4 linked regions of the Homo sapiens genome follow. The protein of the gene in region 4 interacts with the protein of the main gene of each other region in a biochemical or structural test. Each region holds a gene or a part of one and is shown on either strand. Other genes may lie near its edges. The genes, in order: STAT5A, BLNK, SH3BP5 and BTK.

Region 1 (8,005 bases), on a different chromosome or scaffold from region 4:
GGTGATCCACCCGCCTCGGCCTCCCAAAGTGCTGTGATTACAGGTGTGAGCCATCATACCCAGTCTTATGAAGCACTTCCAATCTACCGTATCTTTTGACTGTAACACAGGGGTCCCAAACCCCTGGGCCATGGACTGGTACAGGTCGGTGGTCTGTTAGGAACTGGACCACACAGCAGGAGGTGAGCGGCGGTGAGCAAGTGAGTGACGCTTCATCTGTATTTACAGCTGCTGCCTATTGCTCGCATTACAGCCTGAACTCTGCTTCCTGTCAGATCAGCAATGGCACTGGATTCCCATAGGAATGCTAACCCTATTGTGAACTGCACATGCGAGGGATCTAGGTTATGCACTTCTTAAGAGAATCTAATGCCTGGTGATCTGTCACTGTCTCCCATCACCCCCAGATGGGACTGTCTAGTTGCAGGAAAACAAGCTCAGGGCTCCCACTGATCCTACATTGTGGTGAGTTCTATAATTATTTCATTGCATAGCACAATGTAATAACAATAGAAATAAAGTGCACAATAAACGTGATGCTCTTGAATCATCCAGAAACCACCTCCCTGCCCAATCCCGGTCCATGGAAAAATTGTCTTCCATGAAACCGGTCCCTGGTGCCAAAAAGTGGTGGGGGATCAAGGCACTAACAGCATGGAAACTCTAGGACATAAGCAGAAACTATGATCCCCATTTCACAGATGAGAAAACTGATGCTCAGACATTATGTACTCGTCCAGACGCAACCAAGTGAGAGAGCAGATGACTCCAGACTCAGGGCATCTGATGCCAAGGTCAAGGTACTTCCCACCATCCTGCCCCTGGCCTCCTATATTGCTTCCCCTCAGGCTTCTCCTGTTTTCCCCCTCTTCTGGGATGGACTTGTATTTCCCTGGCACCCTGCTGTCTGTATTGAAGGGCTCTCTAGGAAACATACGTGAGTTCCAATAAGTGCTTGACTGTCATCACTACCCACACCCCTTTCCTGCTTCCACAAAAACTCCCTCTCTTCCTCCATACCCACTCCCCTCAAGTAAAGAAGCTACATCTTATTTCTAAACCCTCAATTCAAAGCCCTTGTGTCCAGCTCTTGTCTCTGGGATGGCTCCTCTCTCACCTTTAAAAGACCCCAAGAGGGAGGTCTGGTGGCCTCATTTCTAGAGTCTGCTGGTCTTCCCTTCTCCAACATAGGAATCCTGACTCAGTCTCCCTCCATCCCTTCTGCTGCTTCCATAAGGCCAGTTCACCCATCTCTCTCTGTTGGCAACAAACACCTCCCACCCTTGCTTTGCAATATGCTAAAGAAATCCGACAGGTCGAATTTAGAAAGAGGGGGTGGGGGAAATCGAAGAAAAGTTCCCAATAAGTTCGTGGTCACATGGTGAGTCAGTGGCCAGGCCAGGAAAAAACCCAGGGGTTCTGATGCTGGAACAAGATGATGCTTCCTCCCCGTAGGTGGCCCAGAGCCTACACCCACCTGGAGCTGCGTGGCGTAGTGCCCCAGCTTGATCTTCAGTAAAAACCCATCTTCCCCCACCTGGTGCTCCGCCTTCTTCTGCAGCTCCTGCACCAGGCCCTCCAGGAGCTGGGTGGCTTGGGCTCTGTCCTGGGGATTGTCCAAGTCAATGGCATCCCTTGGGGCAGGGCAGAAGAGAAAAACCTACTGTGGCACCTCCTTGGGCAAGGAGGTCAGGGAGCTGGAATAAAGTGGAAACCCCAGGCTCATGACCGAGGGCACTCCAGGGCCCACAAGACTTGTTCCCAGCAGCTCCACAGACATCCGAGTCTAAAAACATTCTCTGTCCTCCCAGGCTTCCCCTTTCCCAGGGGCACCACCCCTTCCGCACAAAGAAGGACAGGCAGGACCAGAGTCACACCAAACCACCATGAGTAAAACTAGAGGCCAAAGGGCCTGGATGGTAGGGACCCTCTGAGGAGGGGCAGGGCGGGACGTGCCTACCATGGCTGGCTCTCAATCCACTGGGCCAAGTAGTGCCGGACCTCGATGGGGAAGTGCTGGCCGTACAGCACCTGCATCTGGCGCAGCGCGTCTCCCTGCAGCTGCTGGGCCTGGATCCAGCCCGCCATGGCCGTTCACCTAGGGCGAGCCGAGCGCTGAAGCGCTCTCCTCTGCAGAGGCCAAGGAACCGGGCCTGCCCCTGGCCTTGCCATGCCTACCTATCCCTGGACCGCGGCCAGGCCAGGCCCCTCCCCTCCCACAGATAGCTTTCCTGTGCGGGAACAGAGATGGTGAGGAGTGGAGGGCCGCCCATCCCCTCCAACAAGGAACCCGCTGAAGGGGAGGGGAAGGTGCTCTGCAGAGGCAGGTGCCCTCCCCGTCTTCCTCTCCCCTCGCCCCACCGGAGCTTCCCTAGTGAGGGGGACGGCCAGAAACTGAAAGAGAAACTTGACGGCGGGAGGCCCACAGGCCCCCTGGAGAGGGCTGCAAGGATCCCCCAGCCCACCTCGGGCCCGGTTTCTGGGAAGGGGAGATATTCCAACCCGAAGTTAGGCCAGCGCCACGACGGCTCCCACTCGACGGCTAGGGCTTTTCGGGCACGTGGCTGGGGCTGTTCAGGAGACAGGGCTGAGGACTTGGGCGCTCCCCTCTTCGGCTGCTCCCCCATCTGTGCACTAGTGCCTCCCCGGGTCCAGCCCGACAGGTGCTCCCTCTCCGAGGCGTGCCAGGACGGCGCCCTCCCTGGCCTCTGCCTTTCATCCCCGACCCCTGTCCCCACGTCCCCCCGTCCCTCGTCTGCGCTGGGCCAACTCCCTCGCAGTGCCGGGGACTGATCCCCGCGCTGCGCCCGGCCGTCGAGCTCCGGGTGCCGGAGGTGCCGGGGCGGCAGTAGAGTGTCCCCTCTCGGCGCGCCGCCGAGGACGCGCCACCGGGTCACCCACCTGGTGGGGCCGCACCGTCCGGCAGCCGGGCCGGCTCTGCGCCCCGCGGCTCTCGCTCCCGGCCGGGGTTCCTGGCGGCGGCGGCAGCGGCGGCTGTTACTACAGGAAGGAGCGGAGAGCAGCGATTTCCTCCTCAAAGGTCAGCTGCCTGCGATAGACCATACACAGCGCGCGAGCCCGCGCCAGCAGCCCTCCCAGCCCCGCTTGCTCCCTCCCTGCCTCGCCCTCAGTCGCCGGCTCCCCTGCAAGTGCGCAACAGCGGCGGCCGTTCCCGGCGGGCGGCGCCGGGCGTGGGGGCTGCCCCGACGGCGGGGTCCCCCGGGAGTCCCAGCAGGCCCTCGGCGGCGGCTCCCAGGGAGCGTCCCGGAACCGGGGCGGGTCAGAATAGCCGGGGGAATGTGGTTGTCGGGCGTTGCCGGGAAATCCCGGGCTCTGGAAATCCCAAACCTGGGCCTCAGTTTTCTCATCCGCAAAAAGGGAGGAGGGAAAAGTGGACCAATTGGCGACGCCTTCCAGCTCTGGCGCGTGTCATCTTTTGAGCCCCTAGATTAAAAAATAAATGTGTGGGGTGTGTGTGTGCACGCGCGTGTGTGCGCATGTGTGTCTTGGGGGCCACAGGTTTTGTGACCTCAGAGACAAAACTGTAGAGAGGGGAAGAACTGGGGATTCTAGTGAAGCCAAGATCACCCCCACCACCGCAGCACCTCCCTCCTTCTTTTACTCCGGCCATCTAAACTCAACCCTGACGGAGGAACTGGAAAGAATCTTGGCAGTCATGTGTTTCAGCCCTCCCCCTCTCCACAATTTTGCAGGTAAGAAATGGAAGTCCTGAGAGGGAAAGGGGCTTGCCCGGGGCCACCCAGGGCCACACAGTAGGCACGTGGCCTCACCAGCCGACTGTGATCCATAAACTAGCCAGCGCCCCCGTTCACCCAGCCTAGTTACTTATGAGGCTGGTTCTACCTTCAGAAAAGTCCAGGGAGGGACCGTCTTGAGTCCTCCTAACTTCGAAACTCTCTACAGGCCTTGCCACAGCAGTGAATATCCTGTCTAGAGCCTCAGTCCCCCTCTCCAAGAGGCCCCTTCCCACGAGGCCCAAGGGGTTTGGTAAGGTCGGGCTGGACGCCTTCCATCCCCTTTGCCCAGCTTCCCTCTCCTCTGGGCCTCCCCTCTGCCTGGCAGCGGGTTGGCAGCACCAGAGGAGGGGCCAGCCCAGCTGCCCACTCACAGCACAGCTGGGCCAAGACTGCATGTTCTGTTGGGGGGGGTGCATTCTCATCTGCCTCCCTCCCCAGCTGCTTCTCAGAGCTGCCCTTTTCTCTCCATTTCCACTCTCCTTTCTTGCCCCTTACTACCTCTCCCAGTTTCATTCTTTTAACTTCAGAGGAAAAAAAAAAAAAGAACTTCAAAGCTGCAGAAGCCAAAATGTCTGCGTTCTCCCCACCTTCTCTGTGTGGTCACAGTGTCTTAGTTGGCAGGATCACGAGGAAAGGAATTGAAAACTCTAAGGGGGTGCATGGAGGATGTAGGGAAGCCTTGCTTCCCAGATGCTCTGCAGGGGGCCCCAGGGAGGAGGAAGTATAGTCCCTCTCCTCTCCTTTCCCACTCTGAGCAATGGATTTGGCAGGGGAGGGTCAGACACAGAGCTAGGGGGTCAACTGGAATGAAAGCCAAGTGCCACAGCTGGAAGTGACCATAAAGATGATTTTACAAGTGGAAAAACAAAGGCCAGAGAGGGGAAGTGACTTTGCCACCGTCATGCAGCCTGTCGGTGGCTGGATACAAACCCATTGCCACATTTGGGTGGGTCCCACTTGGCACCTGTGCCCTCCAGCAGTTCCCTTCAGGCAGGTGTGGAAGTCAGTTGATGGGAGCAGATTCCTCAGGTTTTCAAGTCCTCTCACCCAGGTCTGGAGGGCAGAGGGCCACCCTTGCCATGCACTGACATCTGGGCACCTGATGGGGTGGGGGTGCCTGCTTAAGAGAGGGGGTCCTGCCTGCTCTCTTCCAGGCAGCCACCTCTCTAGACTTCTCCTCCAGGGCCTGCAGAGGCCTGTTGCTCCAGCAGGCAGCCCCACCCACCAAACATCTGTCTTGGTTGGGCCGGGCTTGGCTTTAGTGTGGGTAGTCCTAGGTCCTAAAAAGCTAGCATTGAGGTGCCAGAGTACAGAATGGGAAGGATGGGCCTAAAAGGGTGTGTGGCTGTGTTTTCAGAGCCCTCCCGTGCCTCCCACCCTGACCCTGTGCCCAGTGGCTGTGCCCTTGGTTGACCATCCCTCATTTGGTCTCTGACTGTAAGGCCCCGAATATCTGTGTCTTTCATTGCACATTTCCCCTTCTGGGTTTTTTTTTTTTTTTTTTTTTTGAGATGGAGTTTCGCTCTCGTTGCCCAGACTGGAGTGCAATGGCGCGATCTTGGCTCACAGCAACCTCCACCTCCAAGGTTCAAGCGATTCTCCTACCTCAGCCTCCCGAGTAGCTGGGATTACAGGCATGTGCCACCACTCCTGGCTAATTTTGTATTTCTAATTTTGTATTTTTAGTAGAGGCGGTGTTTCTCCATGTTGGTCAGGCTGGTCTCGAACTCCCGACCTCAGGTGATCCACCCGCCTCGGCCTCCCAAAGTGCTGGAATTACAGGCATCAGCTACCATGCCCGGCCCCCACTCTGGCTTTTATTCTCTCTGTGTCTCTCCCTTGTCTCCTTAGGTCTCCATCTGGTTCTCTGATTCTGTCTGGGTTTCTCTCCATTTCTTCAGGCCTGTTCTCCCTTTGAGATGCAGTGGGGAGGAGGAGGAGCTATGGAACTTTCCCAGGATGGGCAAAGGGCACCCAAGGGAGTAGAGGGAAGGGTGTCAGAGTTGGGTTGGGAAGAGGTGACTGTAGTCGTGGCTCCAGATAACACAACTACCCAGAAATGTCAAATTTGGGGTTTCTTTTTGCTTTCAGTCCCCTTGTTTGTCCCCTTGTGTGGGTGATTTCCCACCACAAAGTGCCCTGGTGATTTTGGGGAACCAGGCTGTGGAGGAGAAAACTGAGGCCACGGGATGGGGGTTCAGGAAGATCAGAAACTGTCAAGGGTCTGACTGAGCTGCGGTCCGAGGCTGGCCTCCTTGCCCCTAACTGCTCTTCACCCCCAAATCCAAGTCACAGTATTAGATGGGGAGTGAGGAAGGATTTTAGAAATCTTACAGAAATATATTCCCCAGGCTAGGTGCAGTGGCTCACGCCTGTAATCCCAGCACTCTGGGAGGCTGAGGTGGGAGGATCACTTGAGGCCAGGAGTTTGAGACCAGTCTGACCAACATGGTGAAACCTCGTGTCTACTAAAAATACAAAACAATTAGCTGGGCGTGGTGTCACGCACCTGTAATCCCAGCTACTCGGGAGGCTGAGGCACAAGAATCTCTTGAACACAGGAGGCGGAGGTTGCAGTGAGCCGAGATCATACCACTGCACTCCAGCCTGGGCAACAGAGTCAGACTCTGTCTCAAAAAAAAAGAAAAGAAAAAAAAAAAAGCAATATATTCTCCAAAAGAAGACCTCCTATATTTTATTAGGAATAATAATAGTCTGCAGCCTAGGCTTCAGTTGGCACACTATATTCGTATCCTGAACTACATCAAGGCACATTTGTGTACAGACATGGTTGTGCTCTTCAACTCAACGGATCCTTTCAATAACCTTGAAGGCAGTCAGGGCCAGAATCACACCCTTTGATTAGTCCATGAAAGAAACCTGCCCAAAGCTGTCTGGCCAGTAAGTGCACAGATGGCACCAGGATCCAAGTTGCCGGGCCTTGTGGGCAGGGTCTCAGTATAACCTTTCTAAGCTTCCCCAAGCCCAGCACACACCGGCGGAGTGAAGAGGCCTCCCTGGGCTGGGCTAGCCCACCATTTTTCTGCGGTGCGGAGCATGGCATCTCCATTCTCGCCCAGCCTACACCCCTGCTCTATTGAATGGGACAGTGTGCTCTGTGCACACTTACATGAAGGTGGGTTTGAGTTTATGGATTAAGAGAATTATCCCAAAGGGCCGGGCATGGTGGCTCACGCCTGTAGTCCCAGCACTTTGGGAGGCTGAGGCGGGTGCATCACCTGAGGTCAGGAGTTCGAGATCAGCCTGGCCAATATGGTGAAACCCCGTCTCTACTAAAAATCCAAAAATTAGCTGGGCGTGGTGGTGCACACCTGTAGTCCCAGCTACTCAGTACGCTGAGGCAGGATAATCACTTGAACCAGGGAGGTGGAGGTTGCAGTTAGCTGAGATCACGCCGTTGCACTCCAGCCTGGGCAACAAAAGCGAAACTCCGTCACAAAAAGAAAAAAAAAAAAAGAGGGAGAGAGAAAGAATTATCCCAGGTCCCCTTTCTGCCTTGCCCTTGACGATCAGGTCTGCCCATGCCCCTACCCTGGGGAGAACAGATTGAGGTCACCTTGACTTGACCTTCCTTGGGGGGTGGAGGGAGGTGGTACAGAGATGCCTTTGTTTCCTGTGCTCCAAGTCCCTTCTTCAAGGAGAGTTCCTGTTACATGGGAGCCAGAGGGGAGGTGGGGTAGGGGTGAAGGGCCTTCCCAAGAAAGCTGGAGGCTTTCTAGGAAGTATCTTTTCACCCTGCGGCAAAGGGGAGAAGCCCTGGAGCACTTAAACATCCTGTTTCACCCCCACCTTGCCTCTGCTTGGACAGCCTACCTGCACTCCAGCCCCCACCGGAGAAGGCTTCTAGAAGTGGGGCCATGGGCCCATGCTCAGAGTATACCCCACCTCTGAGGCCAGGCCCTGGTACCTCCCTATAGAAATGCCACCCCCATTCTTGTCCAAGAAGACAGATCAGGACCTAGGGAGGGTGTGTGTTTATATGCACAGGGTGAGGACTTCTGTGCAAATCTGGGGGAAGGGAAGGAGCTGCCGGAGCTTGGGTGAAGCCCGTTCCTGCCGCTGTCCCCTATCCACCACTCTTCAGGGAAGTCACTTTACAGTGAAGTCACCAAGAGAACACAAGGCCATCCTGCCTGAGGCATAGTGACTGTCCTCTGTTTCTGGGAATAGCATGAGGGGAAGGGTGTGGGGCTGGACAGGGTGGGTAGGAGAGGAGTCCTGCTTCC
Region 2 (7,023 bases), on a different chromosome or scaffold from region 4:
AATTTTAACCAAGACTTAATTGTCAAGCATTGGCAGTGGAGAGCCCAGCTACATTAGTGTACCAATGATCATTGTGGAGGTTTAAATTTCCAGCCACTTTGTTTTATGCAAGAGCATTATTTTCTTATTTTGATAATATACTTTACACTTATTTTTAAAAATAAAAATATTTATTTGGAAAATATTAGTAGCATGATAACTCAACCTCACCAGATATTAACAGTTCATCAGGTCAGGCAATAGAACAAGTCCACATGAGCTTCTTAAAAAGAAATGGATGACCACTTCAATAGCTGACTCCATCTTCCATTTTATTACTGGATGATTCATAATCCAAAATATGAAGTTTTGGGACTTTTTCTCAAAAGGAGAAACTTTGGGAAAGTGTCTGAAGCAATGGTATTGATCTTTTTTTTCCCCCTTTATGAAACTTTAACTGCATACTTCAGTCTGGTGGAATCTTTTGTGTTATTCTGACTGTCAATAAGAACCAAAGGACTATGTTGATGATTCCTGATGATTTCAGCAACACTTCCAAAGTACTAGAGGAAGAAAACATAGATGAATTATACTTTGGCATTTGTGTTAAATTTGAGCTCCACTCCTCCCATCTTCTCTCATTCTCAAGTTAGTAAAAGTTATTACACCCCAGCTGACATTCTGCACAAAAAAATCTAGTTTAACAAAGGCTGTAACCTTCAAGGTGGCAGACCTTGGACTTTGCTGTATTAAGTACGAAGAAAAACACACTGACAGCCTCAATTAGCATAGCTACTTAGAGAGATTACTTCACTGAGTTATGATAAAATATTATAGTATATTGCTTTTTATTTACCGTTAAATGTAAAACTATCATACAACGCATTTTTCTACATTCTTTACAAAACATAGATCATCTCTTACTTTGCACAAGTCTCAGATACAAGAATTGATGTAATAAATTAACCTTAGAAATTTAGTACAAGGAAATAGTCATCTCCTAAACAAAATTATGTTTTGTTTTCTTTTTTAAACAAATAAAGAAAGCTTTATAAACCTTCATATTTCCATTTTTACTTGGTTCCTGGTAAGCTTAGAGTTAACTTAGTGCCTAATTAATAATGAAATTTCATGCTAGGCTCTCTCCATACATACTTATTTTTCCAAATTTTGATCCTTGTTGTCTATGGGTTTTAATTTAAAATTATCACAAATTTTGTTCTGAAAAATAATTAAAGTTTTGAAGGAAAGATAAAAACAAATGTAACACAGATCATGAAATTAAATTCATTGAGTATACAAAAGTGCTACAAGTTCACACTCATTAAATGTATTTAGAATCACTTTTTAAAAGTGGTGATTGTTTTACAACAGTGCCATGAGTTTAGCAGTTACTATCAATTGATTTTATTTTCTCGATTTTTTAGATAAAGACAAACATCCACAGTAAAATTTTTAAGTGTTTATTAATTGTTTGGATGACTTCCAAGTAGCTACATATTGAATAAAGTAAAATATTCAGAATATTGGCCAACATTTCCAAATGAAATACCAGTTGTCTTTTAGATAATTGGCTAGCTGAATATTCAGTCAGGGAGAGAGGTAAGAGACAGGGACTTTCAAATACCTTTAGTCTTTATTCTTTACTTCCTATTCAATCATTCAGCCATCTTGCAATTGCCAAAGAAATTCTTTCATTATAAATCCCATTAAACATTCATTCTGCTTGTTTGGCATAATATGTTGCTAAACCAAATGCAGTTGAAAGTTAAAGTTATGGACTCAAGGGCCAGAAAACGAAATAGCACAATCTCTTTGAAGTGGATTACAAGGGAAAAAGTGTGTCCTGAACCTAGGAAGCATAGGAGAGGATTGCTGTACTTATACAAACAAATATCTCATTCCGTCCCTCTAGTCCCTGAATATTTGTGAGTATTGCCTTGTTGTGGTGTTCGGGGATTGAAGTGTGTGCAGTAGGGAGTTGAGCTGAGTTGAAACATTTGAAGTAGGGAATGAAGTTGAAGAATATTTGTGATTTAATTTAAAAAAGAATTGGGCATAACATAGTTACAGCTTCCCCTCACTCTCCTTTTTTTCTGTTTTTATTAATTCAGTGTATTTGAGACAGATACATTCAGTGTATTTGTGGACAGAAAAACAACGTATTGGCCACTAAGATAAAGCAGACAGTTGTCAAAACTGTAAAATTACTCAATGTTGTATCACACAGTGCCAAAATAGCTGCATAAACAGTTAAATAGTTAATGAATTGGTTACTTTTTCTAGCCATGTACACACAAATACACACAGACTTTCAGAAAAACTCCACATGATTGACATCATGTAACCAACACTTTAATTTTCCATTCAGATGTTCAGTGTATAGGGGACATAATCTTTTTATTATAGATACTTTAAGTAAGAGTTTTAATTGACTGTCAGTACCTCCAGATGCTATTATAGTAATATATTACTTATTTTGGAATCCATAGGCTGAATATGTTGGAAGTGAGGTGAAGCTCTAGTCTATTCATTCTAAAGTGGAGATGAAGATTCATCAGGCCAAGAGGAATTCCTGTTTACCAGAGTTTCCTAGCAGGACAACGAAATCCAGAGCCCCTCAGGGAGTTCAAAATTTGTGAGAGAATTTCAGGACCTCGAAATAGGACAGCTTCTTCACCCACCCTTAAGCCTCTTATAGAAAAGCTAGACTGCTGGAGAAGCTTTAGGATGTTAAATGATAATGCGGTCTACATTTTAAAACCAAAGATTGGTCTTGATTAGTGCCCTTAGATTCAAGAGTTTTGCATTTTAAAATTATCTGAGACTTTGTTAAAAGCAAAATAAAATTCCCCAATATAAAAATTCTAGAAGAAAATGTAGGGGGGAAACACCATGACACTGGATTTGGCAATGATTTTTTGGATATGACATTAAAAGCATAGGCAAAAAAAGCAAAAATAGAGAAGACAATATCAAGCTTAAAAGCTTTTGCTCAGCAAATAACACAATCAACAGAGTGGAAAGGTAACCTATGGAGTGGGAAAAATATTTGCAAATCATTTATCTGATAAGGGGTTAATATCCAGAAACATAAAGAACTCCTAAAACTCAGCAACAACAAAAATCAAATAACCTGATTATAAAATGGAATAGACATTTCTCTGAAAATGACTTACAAGTAGCCAAAAAAGCATATGAAAAATGTTCAACATCACTAATCATCAGAGAAATGCAAATTTTTTTTTTTTTTTTTTTTGAGACGGAGTCTCGCTCTGTCGCCCAGGCTGGAGTGCAGTGGCGCGATCTCGACTCACTGCAAGCTCCGCCTCCCGGGTTCACGCCATTCTCCTGCCTCAGCCTCCTGTGTAGCTGGGACTACAGGCACGCGCCACCATGCCCGGCTAATTTTTGTATTTTTAGTAGAGACGGGGTTTCACCGTGTTAGCCAGGATGGTCTCGATCTCCTGACCTCGTGATCCGCCCGTCTCGGCCTCCCAAAGTGCTGGGATTACAGGCGTGAGCCACCGCGCCCGGCCAGAGAAATGCAAATTAAAACCACAATGAGCTGTCTATCACCTTACACCCATTTGGACGGCTACTATAAAACAACAACACAATTCAGAATATAACAAGTGCTGGTGGGGATGTGAAGAAGTTAAACCCTCGTGTGCTGTTGGTGGAACTGTAAAATGGTGCAACTGCTATGGAAAAAAGTATGGGAGGTTCTCAAAAAATTAAAAATAGAATACCCATATCATCCAGCAATCCCACTTCTGGGTATATACCCCCAAATAATTGAAAGCAGTGTCCTGGAGAGATTTGCACACCCGTGTTTATAGCAGCACTATTCACAATAGCCAAGAGGTAGAAGCAACACAAATGTCCACTGATGGATGTTAGACACACAAAATGTGGTATATAGATACAATGAGATACTATGCAGCCTTAAAAAGGAAGGAAATCCTAACACATGCTACAACATGGATGAGTCTCAAGGACATCATGCTAAGTTAAATAAGCTGGTCCTAAAGGACAAATACTGTGTGATTCCACTTGTATGAGGTATCTAAAATATTCAAATTCATAAAAATAGAACGTGGTTGCTAGGGGCTGAAGGGAGGGGGAAAAGGGAAACTGTTGTTCAGTGGGTATAGGGTTTTAGTTCTATAAGATGAACAAGTTCTGGAGATCTGTTTCACAACAATGTAAATATACTTATTACTGAGCTGTACACTTAAAATGATTAAGATGGTAAATTTTATATGTGGTTTTTTAACCACAGTTGTCTAAAAGGCAAAATAAAGAATACACATGACTTTTTCAGTTTGTTTTGCAAATGCTATTCTCCTGCCTGTAATCACTCAACCAAATCAATTCAGTTGCTTAATAATTATTTATCAAGTGTACACTGAAGCCAGTTACTGTGCTCTGATTCTGGAAATACAGAGATGAAAAGACATTGTCCTTGGCTTCATGTAGTGGGGAAGACAGACACTTCAGCAATCATGACATTTTCCAACAATTCAAATATTTTCTAGCAGGTGCTGGGTTTGGAATGGTGTACCTTTTTCTGAAGGAATCTTGAAAGTAAATATTTCTTACCTTGAATTTTGTTTATGCTATTTTCTCTGCATAGATTGTTCTTCCCATTTTTCTCCTTCTCCATCCCTCCAACTTACATTCTACCCATTTAAATTCAACCCGTAATTCAAAACCAGAATAAGTATCACTGCATTTCTAGACCATTCATGGGTTACTCCAGCTCATATTTCAGGGTTCATTTATAGGAGCAGGCTGGCTAAACTGAGATATGGTAAGCACTGAGTTTGGTCCAGATTAAAGAGGCATTAAAGTTAATGTTTGATTAATATTTAAGACCCATGTGATTTTTTTTTCTTGCTCCAGGCCCATAAGCTCATTCTGGTACAAGGGCTATAGTCTAATGTTTTAACTCAAGTTTCTGCATCTCTTCTGGATCCTTCCCTGGTAACCTACCTTGGTACTTGAGTTGAGATTTTAGGTCTTGACTTTGGAGGTCTGGAACTTGACCCTAATTCTTACAACCTTAATTCAACTTGACATTTCAACCTTGATTTATATTTGCCCCTGGACTAAAATCTTGGGTCAGACTGACCTCATTAAATAACTGAATGAAAGGACTAGCATGTACATCACATGACTTTTTCCTTTTCTGTGTTCTTATAGGATATACTGCCTAAATATAGTATTTTATCTTGTTCTCTATGACATTTATGCAAGCATTAGAACAAGTACTTTTGTATCCTTTCTCCTCATCTCTAGCATCTAATACAGTATTTGATGTCATTATACTCAATGCATAGTTATAGAATTGAATTTAAAAAGAAATCACTGACCTCTTCACCATTTTTCTTTCTGCCCAAGGCATATTGTTTTGTTGCTTCAATAAATCGCACAGGAATATTATATACTCGCTTATTAAAGAATACAACTAGTGTATATGGTTGTTTGGAATCATGGCCAGAGCTTTTCCGAATAAGAAATGATCCATCCTGTTTAATTTTTTTTAAAAAACATAATTATGGTTAGTATTACTTATATTTCTACAGGTTCAAAAAATCATTTTGTGAAGAACACCTATATTACATTCCAAAGGTAAATTATTTAGCTACATTATTTTTATTATTGATTAGCGCTTGTCTTCTTATTTTCTAAGAAAATAGTCCAGGAAAATATATACTCATAGAAAATCCTGAGTGAGATCAATGCTTGCCTTTTTTGAAAAAAAGGTAATAATTAATTAATTATTTTTAGAAACAGTCTCACTTTGTTGCCCAGGCTGGTGTGCAGTGGTGCAATCACAGTCCACTACAGCCTGGAACTCCTGAGTTCAAGCGATCCTCCCACCTCAGCCTCCTGAGTACCTGGGACTACTGGCATGCACCACCATGCCCAGCTAAATGCTAGCTTTTTAATGTGCTAAATAAGGTTTTATGTTTATAAAATTTAGAAATATGTGAAGGGACACATTAAGATCAAATCTAGAGGACTCTCTTGAACTGGGAACCATAGCCACCAGTTGTCTATGAAAAAAAATGTATCAAACAAATTCCATTCATAAGTACTATAAGAAGAAAACAGAGGTTGGGAATCAAAACTTTCATTTTATATTTGCCCCTGGACTAAAATCTTGGGTCAGACTGACCTCATTATGAAAATTCTCTCCTCAAAGAACTTTTATAAGAAAAAAAATCCCTAGCCGGGCATAGTGGCGGGCACCTGTAGTCCCAGCTACTCGGGAGGCTGAGGCAGAAGAATGGCGTGAACCCAGGAGACGGAGTTTGCAGTGAGCCAAGATCGTGCCACTGCACTCCAGCCTGGGTGACAGAGCGAGACAACATCAAAAAAAAAAAGAAAGAAAAAGAAAAAGAAAAAAAAATCCCCAAACTGTAAGACAGTAATTCAAATTTTATTAAATTTTTTAATAAAAATATTTAGAATCATAAAATAAAAAATTACGAACAAAAGATGGACAAAAAGCAGAATGAAATGCAACAAGAGTTGATCAAACTCAGGAAACAAACTGAAGAAAAAGACAAGCCTATCTCAACAAAGAACAAATTATAAGATGTCCAAGGGACGAGAGCTTCAAATGAAGATTTAAGAAATGACACTTGAAGGAAGGTGTGGAAACAACCAGGAGAGAAAATGGGATTTAATAAAATAAGTACCATAGAATCAAAGACAGTGATGGGAGAAAAAATGACAAAAAAGATCCAAAACGCATGTAAATTGAGTGCTTGCAGAAGAAAAACAAATAAGGGAACAGAACAACCCTTTAAGACTATGATCTAAGAAAACTTATTGGATATAAGAGAAAACTTAAATCTACGTATTGAAAGGGCTTCTGTCTACTTGAGAAAATTGATTTGGAATTATCAACTCAGAGATATATTCTGGTAAAATGATTAGACTTTAAAAACAAAAAGTCTGCAGAGCCACCAGACTAAAGTATCAAATTACATAGAAGGGCAAGAAAGTCACATTGGTATCAGACTTCTC
Region 3 (7,023 bases), on a different chromosome or scaffold from region 4:
GGCTGAAGGGGTCCTATGCTGCCCAAGCTCCCCAGCTGGAGAGCAGCAGGGACCCCAGGCCCTGTGCCCCAAGGAAGGCTGCTCAACTACAAGGTTGGCAGCTCTGCCACAAGCTACTTGTATTTTCCAGAGTCCTCATCAACCCCAGCACTAAGCAGAAAACTGATCCTTTGTCCCTGTCTGTGCCACTGCATGTGGCCTAACAGAGCACACCAGGGCTGCTGCCACCTCCTAGTATATCGGCTTCAGCCATGGCTCCAAGTGTGGCTGCCTGATGTCACCACAGGAAGTGTGAGGGGCCGCATAGATAATCTTGGGCACGTTACGTGGGAACCCCAGTGTCCCGCTGTGCCTGGAGGGATCGTGTAGTCCAAGCCACTGCCATTTCTTCAAGACAGCCCTGGGCCTTTCTGAGCACGGAATTTTCTTTTATTAGACCCTTAAGTAATACTTTGGAAGAAGAGGGTGAGATGAAGCTCCCTTGTTCTACAGAAACAAGCATCCTAGAGTACCCAGAAGGCAGACAAGGGAGGAGACATTCTCTAGCCCTTTGATCACACAGCTTTCAGCTGGCTGAGCATGCCAGGCCCGTGAGGCTCTAGGAGGGGTCAACATGAGCACCACTGGGGGAAACGCTAAGTCCAGAGAGTTCCCAGTTACTCGACACTGTTTCAAAGCCAACCATGCAAGTGTGTGTCCTGGAGAAAGAATTATGTTCTGCATCATCCATTACATTCGGAGAGCCTGCTCTGCACGCTGAAATTCTGAGTGGCACAGGGACGTGATGGGGGAAAGCTTTGCCACAGGCTTTTGTCTCTTGCTGGTGTCTGTTTTTAACTCATCTGTTCAATGAGGGGCATTTCCAGCCTATGCAACTGTGAAGGGATCTGGGAAGAGGAATATCAGCTCAAAGGTGGAAATCCTGGCATGTGACCCGGAACACCTGCCAATCTGCAGAGGTTGCCCCCAAGCCCAAGAAAACCAAATGGGCCCTTCCCTTCAGTGGCCACAGAGAAGGCACATATCAGCTGGCCCTCCCAGGGCCCTATGAAGCCCTCATGACCTCAGGAGTACAGGGCCATCTTGTATAGCCCCACAGGTCTTGCACTGCACAACTCCAAAAAGCGCTATTCCCAAAGTCTGTGGTATGAACGGTGCCCTGAGTTATACAGTGTGGAGGTCTGGGGATGCCACTCCTTGGGAGGCCACCCACTATCCACTGGGGCCCTGGGACTTAAAAATGAGAGATACACAAAGCAGAAGCATGGTTTGTTTATCTTTAAACAACAGATTAAATGACTTCTGAAATGCTTGCTTATAGGCTGACATGGGTCTCCAGCTGGGGTGGAAGAAGGGCAAAAAGGAAAAGTGGCCCTTCAGCTAATTTCTTGGAAGAAGCTACCTTACATTTTGTCCTTTTCATATCTATCGGGCTTTGGCTTGTGAACTTCCAAGATTTCCAGCCACCCCTTCCATTTTTCTCGAGATGACCCAGAAAAGTTGTTTCTAGCCCACGTCTAGCTCTGTGAGCATCACGCCCACTAGGGGGCAGGAGGCGCAAGGCCACACAAAGCCAAGCTCAGCCGAGAGTCTCAGGCTGCAGGGAGAGGTGCGTAAAGTCAACGCGGATTTGACTCTTGAAGTCATTTGTGTGCCAAGCTTTCTATTTAAGGAAGCACAAGGCCATCTTTAATTATCAGATCCCCCAGGACTTGAGCCACTGTGGCAGGTGACATTTAAAAGGGAAATCCTATTGGCATTAACCTGCTGACTTTTCTAATCCAGTCCCCCAGACGGCTTTCTCAAGGAGTCACCAAGACCTCTTGCAACCCCGTACCCGCGCCGTCCAGGGTCTTATTGGAGCTGCTGAAGCCACAGGTCAGCTCACCCACCCACCCTGCAGCAAACCAGCCCTACACTCGTTTTCCAGGCGCTGGGAATCTAGACAGAGAATGCAGAGGGGCACAATGGACCCAGGCTGGTGTGGGGGGATACCAGGAACATGAGCCTGGGCAGCCCAGGAGCCAAGCCTGGAAGGGGGAAGAGGTATCCAGGAACATTCTGCGTGACTTCTAAGAAACCCGATAGAGTTAGGCAGGGGTAACCAAGTACTGCTGAGCCAAGAACTGTCCCTAGCTGCTATGGTCTGAACATTTGTGTCCTCCCAAAATTCTTATGTTGAAACTGATCCCCAGTGTGAGGGTATCTGGAGATAGGGCCTTTGGGAAGTGATGAGGTAATGAGGGTAGAACCATCATGAATGAGATTAGTGACCTTATAAGCTCATGTACCCCTTCCACCGTGTTAGGACATGGAAAAGATGGTCATCTGTGAACCAAGAAACAGGCCCTCATGAGACACTGAATCTACCAATGTCCTACCTACCAATGCACTTCTCATCCTCCAGAGCTGTGAAAAATAAATTTCTATTGTTTACCAACTACCCTGTTTATGGTATTTTGTTTAGTATTTTGTCTTGGCCTGTACAGACTAAGGCACACCATTTCTGGCTCTGAGTAACGCAGTCAGAGAGGTGGTCATGAGAGCCAGTAAAGAACCCAATATAATGACATAAAACCCAGCAAGCCAAGCTGTGAGTAAGGATCACACACAGTCCGCTTCCTCTGTGCCTGTCAACTCCCTGAATCCCAGCCCAGAAGGCCTGTCGTAAGTACACACCTGATTCTGGTCTAATCCGCCATGACCCCTGCCTTCCTCCGACAGCACATACCCGAAGTGCAGCCCCCATTTAGGGCTGTTCATCAAGGTCTCCCCATCACAGATTCGAAACCCAGCCAGTATTGCTGGGGTTCCATGGGAGCAAACCCTGGAAAACCTCGTCCCTCTGGAAGCCTGAGTCCAGTCAAGACCCCCTGGGGATGACCCAAACCAGACAAACCTCAAGCAACATAAGGGAAGGAGCAGCTCTCGCTGTCACGGAGAGACACTGTGACTCATTCTGGAGCACTGGCTTCGTACCAAGCGCAGCCAAGAGATCATACGGAGATGACAACCTGTGATTTTCAGGGTGTTTTCAGGCAACATGCCTGGGAGTCGAGTCTGTTACCTCCGCTCAGGGGAAGCCAGCGCGCATGCACGCGCACACCCCCACAGCACACCCGGCCATGACTCATACCCTCTGAGTGGCGTGATTCAGCATCTCCTGCCAGGCGGAGTCGAACTGCCGCTTGTCATCCTCCAGCAGCCGCTGCTCGGCCAGGGAGATGGTCTCCTTGGCGGCACGGAGCACCTCTGTGGCCCTCTGGAAGTCCTGCGTGGCTTTCTGAGCTTCCAGCTGAGCCTGTGTGAGAAAGAATCCTCATGAGGCCTCAGAAAATGGCAGGGGCTCCCCATGGTCCATTTTACCTTTCAAAAAATAAGCATCCCAAGGACCAGGACAAGCTCATCTCTGCCTCTTCACTCCTGGCACCCACAGGTCCTCATAGATGCCAGACAGGGCAATGGACCCCTGATGGGGGAGTGAGCAACAAATCAGTGAGCGAACAATTTCCACAGTTCTGGGCCCAATGGATGAGATAAACACATCAGCCCTTGGCCAGAACCTGACATGGCAAACCAGCCCATCGTGGGACAGGTACAGCCAACCCCACAGCCTTTCTCAGAAGCTCTGCCTCACTCGAGGCCTGTCACCTTCCCTGCCCAGATCTGTGGCTCAATTCATGGCAAGTCAGAACCAGGAAGGCCCCCAGAGATCATGGTCCAAAGACTTCACTCTATAGAAGGGGGACCTTAGCTGAGAGGACACAGCCTTTCCTGAGATCACACAGCTGACTAGATGCAGAGCTGTGCCAGACTCCAGCCAGTATGAGTTCCAGCCCAGCACTGTCACTCTGCCAGACAGTCTCCCACTCAACTCACACCCACTGACACCAGCGACAGGCCAAGTATGGCACCAGGCAGGCAAAGAGAAGGACCTAATTAATTAACACAACACGGTCCCTGCTTTCAAGGAGCATCAGGTGGGAGAACCAATACCAACTGTAGCTGACCACCACGTCTAGAGCTGCCCCCACTACATGTGTCTACTGATTGTTCAAAATGTGATTAATCCCAGCCAGGTGCAGTGGCTCACACCTGTAATCCCAGCACTATGGGAGGCAGGCGGATCACTTGAGGTCAGGAATTAAAGACCAGCCTGGTCAACATGGTGAAACCCCATCTCTACTAAAAACACAAAAATTAGCCAGGCATGGTGGTGGGCACCTATAATCCCAGCTACTTGGGAGGCTGAGGCAGAAGAATCACTTGAACTCAAGAGGCAGAGGCTGCAGTGAGCCGAGATTGCACCACTGCACTCCAGCCTGGGTGACAGAGTGAGACTCCATCTCAAAAAAAAAAAAAAAAAGTGATTAATCCCAATTGAATGTAAGACATCCCTAATCTTAAAGACTTAGTACAAAAAAAAAAGAATGTTAAATATCTCAATAATTTTTATTATATGATGAAATAATATTTTGGATATATTAAATTAAATTAAATATATTATTAAAATTAATTTCAGCTGGGTGCAATGGATCCCACCTCTATTCCAGCACTTTGGGGGGCCAAGGCAGGAGGACCACTTGAGGCCAGGTATTCAAGACCAGCCTGGGAAACATAGCAAGACCCTACTTCTGGAAAAAATTAAAAAATTATCCGAGCATGGTGGCACATGGCTGTATTCCCCACTCCTTGGGAGCTTGAGGCAGGAGACCGCTTGAGGTTACAGTGAAATACAATTATGCCGCTGCACTCCAACCTGGGTAACACAATGAGCCCCTGCTTCTTAAATAAATAAAATTTAAAGATTAAATTCACAGAGGCTGGGCACGGTGGCTCAAACCTGTAATCCCAGCACTTTGGGAGGCTGAGGCAGGTGGATCACAAGGTCAGGAGTTTGAGACCAGTCTGGCCAACATGGCGAAACCCTATCTCTACTAAAAATACAAAAATTAGCCGGGTGTGGTGGCATACGCCTGTAGTCCCAGCTACTCGGAAGGTTGAGGCAGAAGAATCGTTTGAACCTGGGAGGTGGAGGTTGCAGTGAGCCGAGATCACGCCATTGCACTCCAGCCTGGATGACAAGAGCGAAATTCTGTCTCAAAAAAAAAAAAAATTAATTTCACCATTTCATCTCTCCCCATCTTTCCTTTTTTACTGTGACCACAGGGAAACTTACAATTATACAGGCGATTCCAATTCTATTTCTTGTGGACAGTAGATACCTTTACCCCAAGATGGGCCATGTGATGGCAGCTGTGTGACTGCATGAGAAATCAGCACTGAAACATCACAGTCACCACTCTACAGGCTCACCTTGAATTCCCCAGCAGGGTAGAAGCCACAAACCCGCCTCTGCAGCGTCCCACCACCCTCCCTCGTCCCACCACCCTCCCTCGGTTAACCACATCCCCAAGTCAGTTACATAAGCCCTGGTGGGACGTCCCTAAGGCAGCCCCTGGGACTCGGGAAGAGGGGAACTACAGGGACCCCACCCTTCCCCAAGCAATTCTTGCATGACTTCGAGGAAGTCTTCAGAAACCACAGGCTGAGGACGCTTTGTGAAGAAGGTTAAAGAAGGGGGAACAAAAAAATCAGAGACTCAGAGCACGCCAGCCCCCAAGGCAAAGAACAGCTTTTCCCGAGCACTCTGTGATTGTGTACTGCATACCAGACCCAGACCCAGCCCTCCAGGCGACGATGACAATCAGATGGAGACCCGAACCAAGCATGGAGTGGACACTCAGAAGTCTGTAATACAACGCTGTATGTGACAGTGCCACAGCAGGAAGGGAGGAATGGCAGGGAATGTGAAGGAGAAATTATTTCCAGTACAAAGAACCAAGGAAGGCCTCTTAAAGGAGGAGGATCCCGAACTCAGGACTAAGGACACAAATGATTTGAAAACATGGGCTGATGAGGTGGGGGACAGAAGGAAGGATTTGAGACTCTAAAGACATTACAAAACAGAGTGCCTGTAGGATAAAGACATTACAAAACAGAGTGCCTGTAGGATAAAGACATTACAAAACAGAGTGCCCGTAGGATAAAGACATATTACAAAACAGAGTGCCTGTAGGATAAAGACATTACAAAACAGAGTGCCTGTAGGATAAAGACATTACAAAACAGAGTGCCTGTAGGAGATTCGATGATACCTCAGATCAAATTTTTAAAAAGGACTCCAGTGAAGACCTTGAATGAATGCCAGGCTAAACCTTCAACCAAAGTGGCCCAGGGACCTGCCCCTGCTGTGGACTCACCATGTGGCCCTGGGACCAGTCGCCCACTTCCACTCAGGTGTGCCTCAGCTACACAAGGAGAACAAGGATGCCCACCCTCCCTAGAGCTGACCAACTCACCCCCCCAACCCCTGCCCCACCTCGTGCCTCCAGGCCCATTAGTGGTTCTTAGTTCTTTCATGTGAGGACAGCCCTGCAGGGCCTCCGCAGGCCAAGCTGCTGGGAACGAGAGGAAGCAGAGGGAACCTGTCACCTTAAAAGCCACTCCACCCCCTACCCATAGGTGGCCTCTCCTACCTATATGCTTCACACCAACTCCAGGAGACAGGATGAATCCCACAGGATCCTAAAATGGGATTTGTATTTGCCTTTTTAGGAATTTTTTAGTATTTCAATTCAGCAACATTTAAGGGTAAACTCTCTTCTCCCAGTTCTCTCTGCTTCAGTTATGAATCCCTTATTTCTTCAAGCAAGAAAAGATGCTCTTTTGACGGCCTTCTGAAAGGTGGCTGCTGTACCACGGGCCCAGCACCTCTTCACACCCTCTGCCATGTATCTGATGAGTTCCAAATAAGAGAACCAGATCTCTACAAAGGAAAAGAGGAAGCCCATGTGAAGCTGCCTTTGAGAAGAACATGTGCTGTCAAATTCCGGACAAGCGTCTGAAGTTTCTGCGAGATTCCTTCTCCTGTACAGTGACATAGGATACATGTTTGCCTTGCCATATCACAGGTACAACTAATGTGAGGCCTCATTCCACATTTAACCCACAGAAACCAGA
Region 4 (7,023 bases):
CCTTGGGAAATATTTATCCACAACAAAGAGATGTACAGTGCTTTCGTATACAGTGATTTACAGTTTTCCATGTGCTTTTACATGTATTATTACTTCATTTGATCCTTACAACAACCCCAGAGGTAGATGTGGCATGAATTACCATTATTCTCCTTTGAGAAGAAGAAACTGAGCATCAAAGAAGCTTGTTGGCCTTCTTGCCAGAAATCACCCAGTTTGTAAATGGTAAAAGAGGGCTTGAAACCAGGTTCTCTGACTCTGACTTCAAGCACTCTCATACATCATCTATTTAATTTTTTGGAGCTAGGTATTTTATACTTAGGATTCTAAATATTGCATAACCATTGAATGCCACACCACCCTTGTATTCAGTGCAAAAAATGGGACTTTTCTTAATAAATAGAGAAATGGAGGTGCCTAAAATTACAAAATTGCACTAGAGAGATAGTGATAGAACTGGGAAACTCTTAGTCTAATATTTTATCTTTTATTCATATGATGGAATACTAAGCTCAATTGTATTACTAATATTGAAACAAAATACAAACTTTCCTTTGTTTCTTTGTTATTTGTCTTTCTTTCCTCCCTCATCCCCTTCCTTCTTTCCTTGCTTCCTTCCTTCCTGTCTCCCTCCTCCCCTCCCTCTCTCTTTCTTTTCTCCCCTTCTATCCATTTTTTTCTTCTTTTCTCTCTACGTTTCTCCTTTCTCTTTCTTTCTCGTTTCTCTCTTCCTTCTTTCCTTTTCCTCCCGTCTATCTCCTCTTCCTTCCTTTCCTTCTTTCTTTGGAAACATTTATTTTCCAAATAATTCTCACCGTTTTTGAGCTGGTGAATCCACCGCTTCCTTAGTTCTTCAGTTGGGGAGAAGACGTAGAGAGGCCCTTCATCATATACAACCTGGGTCGATGAAAACACAGACTTCAGCAGTTAGGATTCAGAAAAAAGGAGAAAGACCTTGAAAGTACTAATCTTAGGGGACAATTTGTATATTTATTGTAGAAAACAAAGAAAGGCAGAATCTTCAGTCAGCAATGGTGTTCAGGTTATGTGAACTATCTGAAGGATTCCTGAACTCTTCATATCTAGGAATGTAGCGTTTAAAAGCTCTTAGAATTTTTCATACTCTTAGGTCCTCCTGACTTGTGCTTCAATTCATGCATAAACTTATTTTATAAGGTCTCCGTCTGCCCTTGCTGGAGATAACATTTTTGTTTATCCAACAAAGGGTATTTTATCTTATTATTAAATTCTGACTTTGTATAGAAGAGAAATGAAGTGATAATCTATATAAATTAAGTCTTGATTAGTACATATGGGTTATTCACTTGGATAATATGGAGTAAAATTTTAATTCATGGCTAATTACCTCCACCTCCACTACCTAGTGGCCTCCCCTCACCAATATTAGCCAAAATAAATCAAATTTGGAACTACAAACCTACTTCAAAAAGGGTAAGGTATATAATAAGCAATATCATCAAGTCAAATAGTATTTTTTTAACCATGTACAAGGCATCATGCTAGGTGTTACGAAGATGCATGAAATATATAAGATGTGGTTCCAACCCTCACAGAGTTTATAGACATCACATAATAAATTCTGAAGTCAAATATAAATTAATTTAAAATTATCTGCTGTTCAGCATTGTTCACTAGTGCAGCCAAACAATGTCATCTTGTTGAAAGGCATTGGTAGTAAAAACTGTGTCTGAAATACCCCTCTTTCAAAGGTTTCGTAAATTTGATATAGTCAGGGACACGAACAAGATCCTTTTACATTTTTCTTTTTGCTTGTTAGTCTTGCTGTGCTCATAAATCCATGACAGAAAGCCCCCTCCCCTGAGACTTTCCACTTCCTTTTCTGGCTTTCACTGTTGCAGAGGCTGCTATATTCACGACATGTGGCCTACAGAGTTCTCAGGATGTAAGCAAGCCAAACTGAAGACCAAATTTGTAGTTCTTGCTCTCCTAAACAGATGCATATGTGGCACTTCAGCTCTTCCAGATTACAACAGAATTTAGGTTTATGCATAAGTCTAATAAGTCTTCCTCATACTGAACTTCCTAATACTACTCCCCTTTTCTATCTTTTCAACCCACATGACCACTATTAGACAGATAGTCAGAACCAGAAGGAAGTGAAATGCTCACTCAACAAGCAGAGCATCTTTCTCAATGCAGTTATCATAGACAAGACACACTATGATAGAATTGGTGCTGCTATGTATTCTTTTTGAGGTATAGAGACTAAAAGAAACTATGTTAGATTAGGTAAATAGAAAAGCAAACATTCTTAGCCCATGCCAGTCTCATTTCTTGGTTCAGCATCCTTGTCCACCTCAACTTCTATTCACTGGGTCCTCGTAGCCTTCCCTCTGCCCTGCACCCCACCACCCCTTCTAATTGTGTTACAGGGGCCTTTCGAGATTTGGTGAGAGAAAATAACTCACCTGGAAGGGATAAGGGAACCTTTCAATGATTGAAATTTGCTCCATTTCACTGGACTCTTCACCTCTTCTCTGTAATGAAATAAGAAAAAATGGTTATTGGTTGATGCATTGCTCTTTTCTGAATTTCCTTAGGTACTAGAAGCCTTTTGCTGTGGCTTCAGAAGTTTCTCCTGCACAGACAAGGCTGATTCTTAGTGATTACTTTCTATAGGCCAATAGGGACACATATCCAATACGACCCAACACATACCCAGTCAAGAGAGACTCAGGTATTTCAAATCACTGGGAAAATGGAGGTTTCTAAAAAATTGTTGTTGGGACAAATATTTAACCACTAACGTTGTGGGGAGGAGAGGAGTTAGGTAGCTATGCTACACCATACACCAAAGAAAATTCCAGATGGATTCAAGAGCTTAATATAAAAAATAAAACTATGAATGACTGAGAGTAAATATAAGCAATTATTTATATAATCCTGTGGGAGGCAAGCTTTTTCTAATATAAGGATGAAACTTAGAACTATTAAGAAAAACCTGAACTAATTTGATGACATAGACTTTAAATCCCTATATGGCAAAAAGCATCATAAACAAAATTGAAAGATAAAGGATAAACTGAAAAACATTTTCAACATACTTTACAGTTAAAGGATAAATGTTCTTATATCAAGATCTCTTTAAAAGTATTAGAAATGAGGTAAACATCTCAATGTAAAAAATGGACCAAAAATTAATGGGCAATTCACAAATAAAATATAAATGAGCAGTAGACCAACTTTATGAGTAAAAGAAATTGCAAAATAAGTTAGCAATAAAATGCTATTTTTTTTTTTTGAGACGGAGTCTTGCTCTGTCGTCCAGCCTGGATGTGCAGTGGTGCGATCTCGGCTCACTGCAACCTCCGCCTCCTGGGTTCAAGGGAGTCTCCTGCCTCAGCCTCCCGAGTAGCTGGGATTACAGGCTCGCGCCACCATGCCCAGCTAATTTTTGTATTTTTAGTAGAGACGGGGTTTCACCATGTTGGTCAGGCTGGTCTCGAACTCCTGCTCATGATCCGCCTGCCTTGGCCTCCCAAAGTGCTGGGATTACAGGCGTGAGCCACCACGCCCCACCTGAAATGCTATTTTTCTTGGCTGTCAAATTAACTAATATTTAAAATATCTAGTGTTGGGCTGGGCACAGTGGCTCACGCCTGTAATCCCAGCACTTTGGGAGGCCGAGGTGGGAGGATCACTTGAGGTCAGGAGTTTGAGATCAGCCTGACCAATCTGGTGAAACCCCATCTCTACTAAAAATACAAAAATTAGCAGGGTGTGGTGGTGGGCGCCTGTAGTCCCAGCTACTCAGGAGGCTGGGGCAGGAGAATCACTTGAACCGGAGGCAGAGGTTACAGTGAGCGGAGATCGCACCACTGCACTCCAGCCTGGGCGACACAGCGAGACTCCATCTCAGAAAATAATAATAATAATAAAAATAACAAAATATCTAGTGTTGGAAAAAATGTACAGAAACAGGCACTCTCATACATAGCTTGTAGGTGTGTATGAAATTCAATTCCACTTCTAGAAAATGAAATAAAAAGATAAAAATAACCAAAGTGCACAGATTTTCTTAAAGAGAAGAACAAAATTTTACTTCTAGGAAATTATCATAAGGAAAAGAATAAAAAAAGTACAGAAAGATGTATGCAAGATTGTTCCTCTCAACATGGTTTATACTATCAAGTACTTGTAGACAAACCGAATGTGTAATAATGGGAGATTAAACAAATTACAATACATCCATAATAGGGAATACCATACAGTCATTAAAATCATGTTATTAAAGAATATCTATTGTCATGGGGAAAAGTTTCCCACATATCGTTACATTGAAAAAGTACGTTACAAAGCAAGATGTGTACTATGAGTCTATGTTTTAAATATATGACATATATATAAGTGTATGCGTATGTGTTCTCAGTGAAGAAAAACATCTGTAAGTCTATGTACACCAATATGTTGATAGTTGTTTTAACTGGGTAACAGGATTATGCATCATTTTAATCTTTTTGTATTTTTTATATATTCCAGAGTTTCTGTAATAAATACGCAATTCTCCTGTGATCAAGAAAATACTGAAAATGGTCAGACCCAGTGGGTGGCTCACGCCTGTAATCTTTGCACTTTGGGAGGCCGAGACAGGCGGATCACTTGAGGCCAGGAGTTCAAGACCAGCCTGGCCAACATGGTGAAACCCCGTCTCTACTAAAAAAATACGAAAAATTAGCCAGGCATGGTGGTGCACACCTGTAATCCCAGCTACTTGGGAGGCTGAGGCATGAGAATTGCTTGAACCCGGGAGGTGAAGGTTGCAGTGAGCCAAGATGGCACCAGTGCATTCCAGCCTGGGCAACAGAGCGAGACTCTGTCTAAAAAAAGAAAAAAAAAAGAAAAAAAGAAAATACTGAAATTGATATATATTTTTTAAAAGTGAACTCAAAAATCAGTAGGTTTTATGTCTCTCGCTCCGGAAAGTGAGAAGAGAATAAATAGTAAGGTATTAAAGGATATCATGTGACTCAGAGCCCTAGGATTATGACATTCAGACTTACTTAAGCCTCTAAATCTGATCCTGAGAGAACTGAGGGAATAAAATCAATGATCTCTGACCAGTTTGAAAACTAGATATAGCATCATTTAAAAGTTTGTGTTAACAAATTTTCCATGTTTAGTGAGATGTTCTGAATATGAAGGAAAGAAGCTAAGATTCTTTATAACCAATATGGTAGAGTGAAGAATTTTTAAAGGAAACTTGACCGTGTTCCACGTTGCACAGCATCACCAGTCTATTTACAGAGAATTTAAATGTTGCAAATTTCTTCAAATCTGCTGTTCCCCATCTCAGACATTGGTCTCTTCTTACCGGAATCTGTCTTTCTGGAGGAGGATTTTTTTCAGGAACCACTGTTTCAACACAAGTGATCTTCTCAACATCTATTGAACCCTTCTTACTGCCTCTTCTCTGAGAAGTAGAATGAGGAAGAAAATGGAGAAAGATTAAGAGGGATTAAGCAACCAGATGATTAGATTTTGTTATCTAATCATTCAACAAAGTGAGGTGGCACCAGGACCTGTCATGTGGGGGAAGAAAAAAAAATCCTTCCAGATCTATAAATCTATGACTACCAAATGGAGGGCAAATACCATGGAAGAGTGAATGACTGTATGTACCTTCCTCATAGGAAGTAAGGAAGCAATTTCCAACTCTTCGATTTCATTTTCAACAATCATTTAATGAGTGCTCATCAATTCCAAGATTCCATGGTAATATTTTCCTTGTGGCTTCTTAGGACCTTTGACTTTCCGGCTTTAGCTAGTTATAGGCTAGGAAATATTTTGCTGAATTTGAAAGAACTTAGGTCCATTCTACTCCCCTCCTCCTACCAACGAAAATTTACCTCTTCCCCAAGAAAGATCTAAGGCCAAGTCCTTGATATCTTGAAACTCAGTTTTCATAGTCGAGAAACTTACCCCACGTTCAAAGTCATACTCATAGTAGGAGAGTTTGTGCACGGTCAAGAGAAACAGGCGCTTCTTGAAGTTTAGAGGTGATGTTTTCTTTTTCTGTTGGGATCGCTTCAGAAAGATGCTCTCCAGAATCACTGCGGCCATAGCTTCTTCTTTCTGGAGTTCACCTGTGTGCTGTTGATAATGAAAGTTCCTGAGGACCCAGGACATTAATCCTCATCCCTCTTGGTTCCCCCTCAGCCTAGCTACCTAGTTTCAAATGGAACAAAAATGTGCACAGCTCACAAAATAATTTCTTCCTACCAACCTCCTCCCACAGCCCCCAGCTCTGTCAGGTTTCAGGTATAATGGATGCACACTGAATTGGGGGGGGATTGGTTCGATGTTGTGAGCTCATATAAACTGAGTTCTTGTATAAGGCAATGGAATGCTCTAGATGTTAAATGGCACGCACCTGTGTGCTTGGTAAGGTGTAGAGGTAGCTTTACACTATTCACCTTTATATGATATGTGTAGAATCTGTGAAAAGCAAAAGTATCTGTGCAGCTGTTGATCTTGATATACCCAGAAGGGATAATGCAGGTGCCAGAACTCCACTGAGGCAGATATTGGACTTTCAGTTCCCAATTTCCTAGACGGTGAATATAATTTTTCAAACATTGTCCCACTGGGGTCTGTAACCAAGGGAACTAATAAGGATATGGAGGCTGCACCTGCAGTTCTGGACACACACTAACTGCTGCCCAACTGATTTTGCCCACACCCACTGACTGAGCTACAAAGGATAGAAGATTTGTTCTAAAGTTGAAAACATAATTTTTTTTGGTGGGTTTTGGTGGGGGGGGGGTAGTTGTTGTTTTCTGACCTTTTCCCCATTTAGCTTAAATTAGTTCTTTTAGACAGCATCATGCAAAAGTGATGCAACTGTCTTACTGATATAGATGCCACCTCTGTTCATTTATGAAACACAACTTATTTAGCCTCCCCAAACCTACAATACTCCAGAAGGATTCAATTTAGGTAACTGAAACACAGAAAGACAAATAAAGTTCCCAAAGTCACCAC

What was found.
Region 1: the proteins of BTK (region 4) and STAT5A form a complex in vitro, tested with the Homo sapiens proteins (one study listed by BioGRID).
Region 2: the proteins of BTK (region 4) and BLNK interact in a biophysical measurement, tested with the Homo sapiens proteins (one study listed by IntAct).
Region 3: the proteins of BTK (region 4) and SH3BP5 form a complex in vitro, tested with the Homo sapiens proteins (2 studies listed by BioGRID, with this or other methods).

Annotation. Positions count from the first base shown.
Region 1 is NC_000017.11:42,283,495-42,291,499, reverse strand, and holds the start of STAT5A (signal transducer and activator of transcription 5A), read right to left. Parts: upstream 3,003-8,005; 5' UTR 2,902-3,002; intron 2,571-2,901; exon of another isoform or gene 2,099-2,570; 5' UTR 2,089-2,098; coding exon 1,961-2,088; intron 1,635-1,960; coding exon 1,478-1,634; intron 1-1,477. UniProt on the Homo sapiens protein: Carries out a dual function: signal transduction and activation of transcription. Mediates cellular responses to the cytokine KITLG/SCF and other growth factors. Mediates cellular responses to ERBB4.
Region 2 is NC_000010.11:96,191,551-96,198,573, forward strand, and holds part of BLNK (B-cell linker protein), read right to left. Parts: intron 5,514-7,023; coding exon 5,358-5,513; intron 543-5,357; coding exon 423-542; 3' UTR 1-422. UniProt on the Homo sapiens protein: Functions as a central linker protein, downstream of the B-cell receptor (BCR), bridging the SYK kinase to a multitude of signaling pathways and regulating biological outcomes of B-cell function and development.
Region 3 is NC_000003.12:15,266,577-15,273,599, forward strand, and holds part of SH3BP5 (SH3 domain-binding protein 5), read right to left. Parts: intron 6,804-7,023; exon of another isoform or gene 6,540-6,803; intron 5,285-6,539; exon of another isoform or gene 5,180-5,284; intron 3,302-5,179; coding exon 3,137-3,301; intron 1-3,136. UniProt on the Homo sapiens protein: Functions as a guanine nucleotide exchange factor (GEF) with specificity for RAB11A and RAB25. Inhibits the auto- and transphosphorylation activity of BTK. Plays a negative regulatory role in BTK-related cytoplasmic signaling in B-cells.
Region 4 is NC_000023.11:101,369,183-101,376,205, forward strand, and holds part of BTK (tyrosine-protein kinase BTK), read right to left. Parts: intron 6,133-7,023; coding exon of another isoform or gene 6,103-6,132; coding exon 5,962-6,102; intron 5,453-5,961; coding exon 5,354-5,452; intron 2,520-5,353; coding exon 2,451-2,519; intron 898-2,450; coding exon 816-897; intron 1-815. UniProt on the Homo sapiens protein: Non-receptor tyrosine kinase indispensable for B lymphocyte development, differentiation and signaling. Binding of antigen to the B-cell antigen receptor (BCR) triggers signaling that ultimately leads to B-cell activation.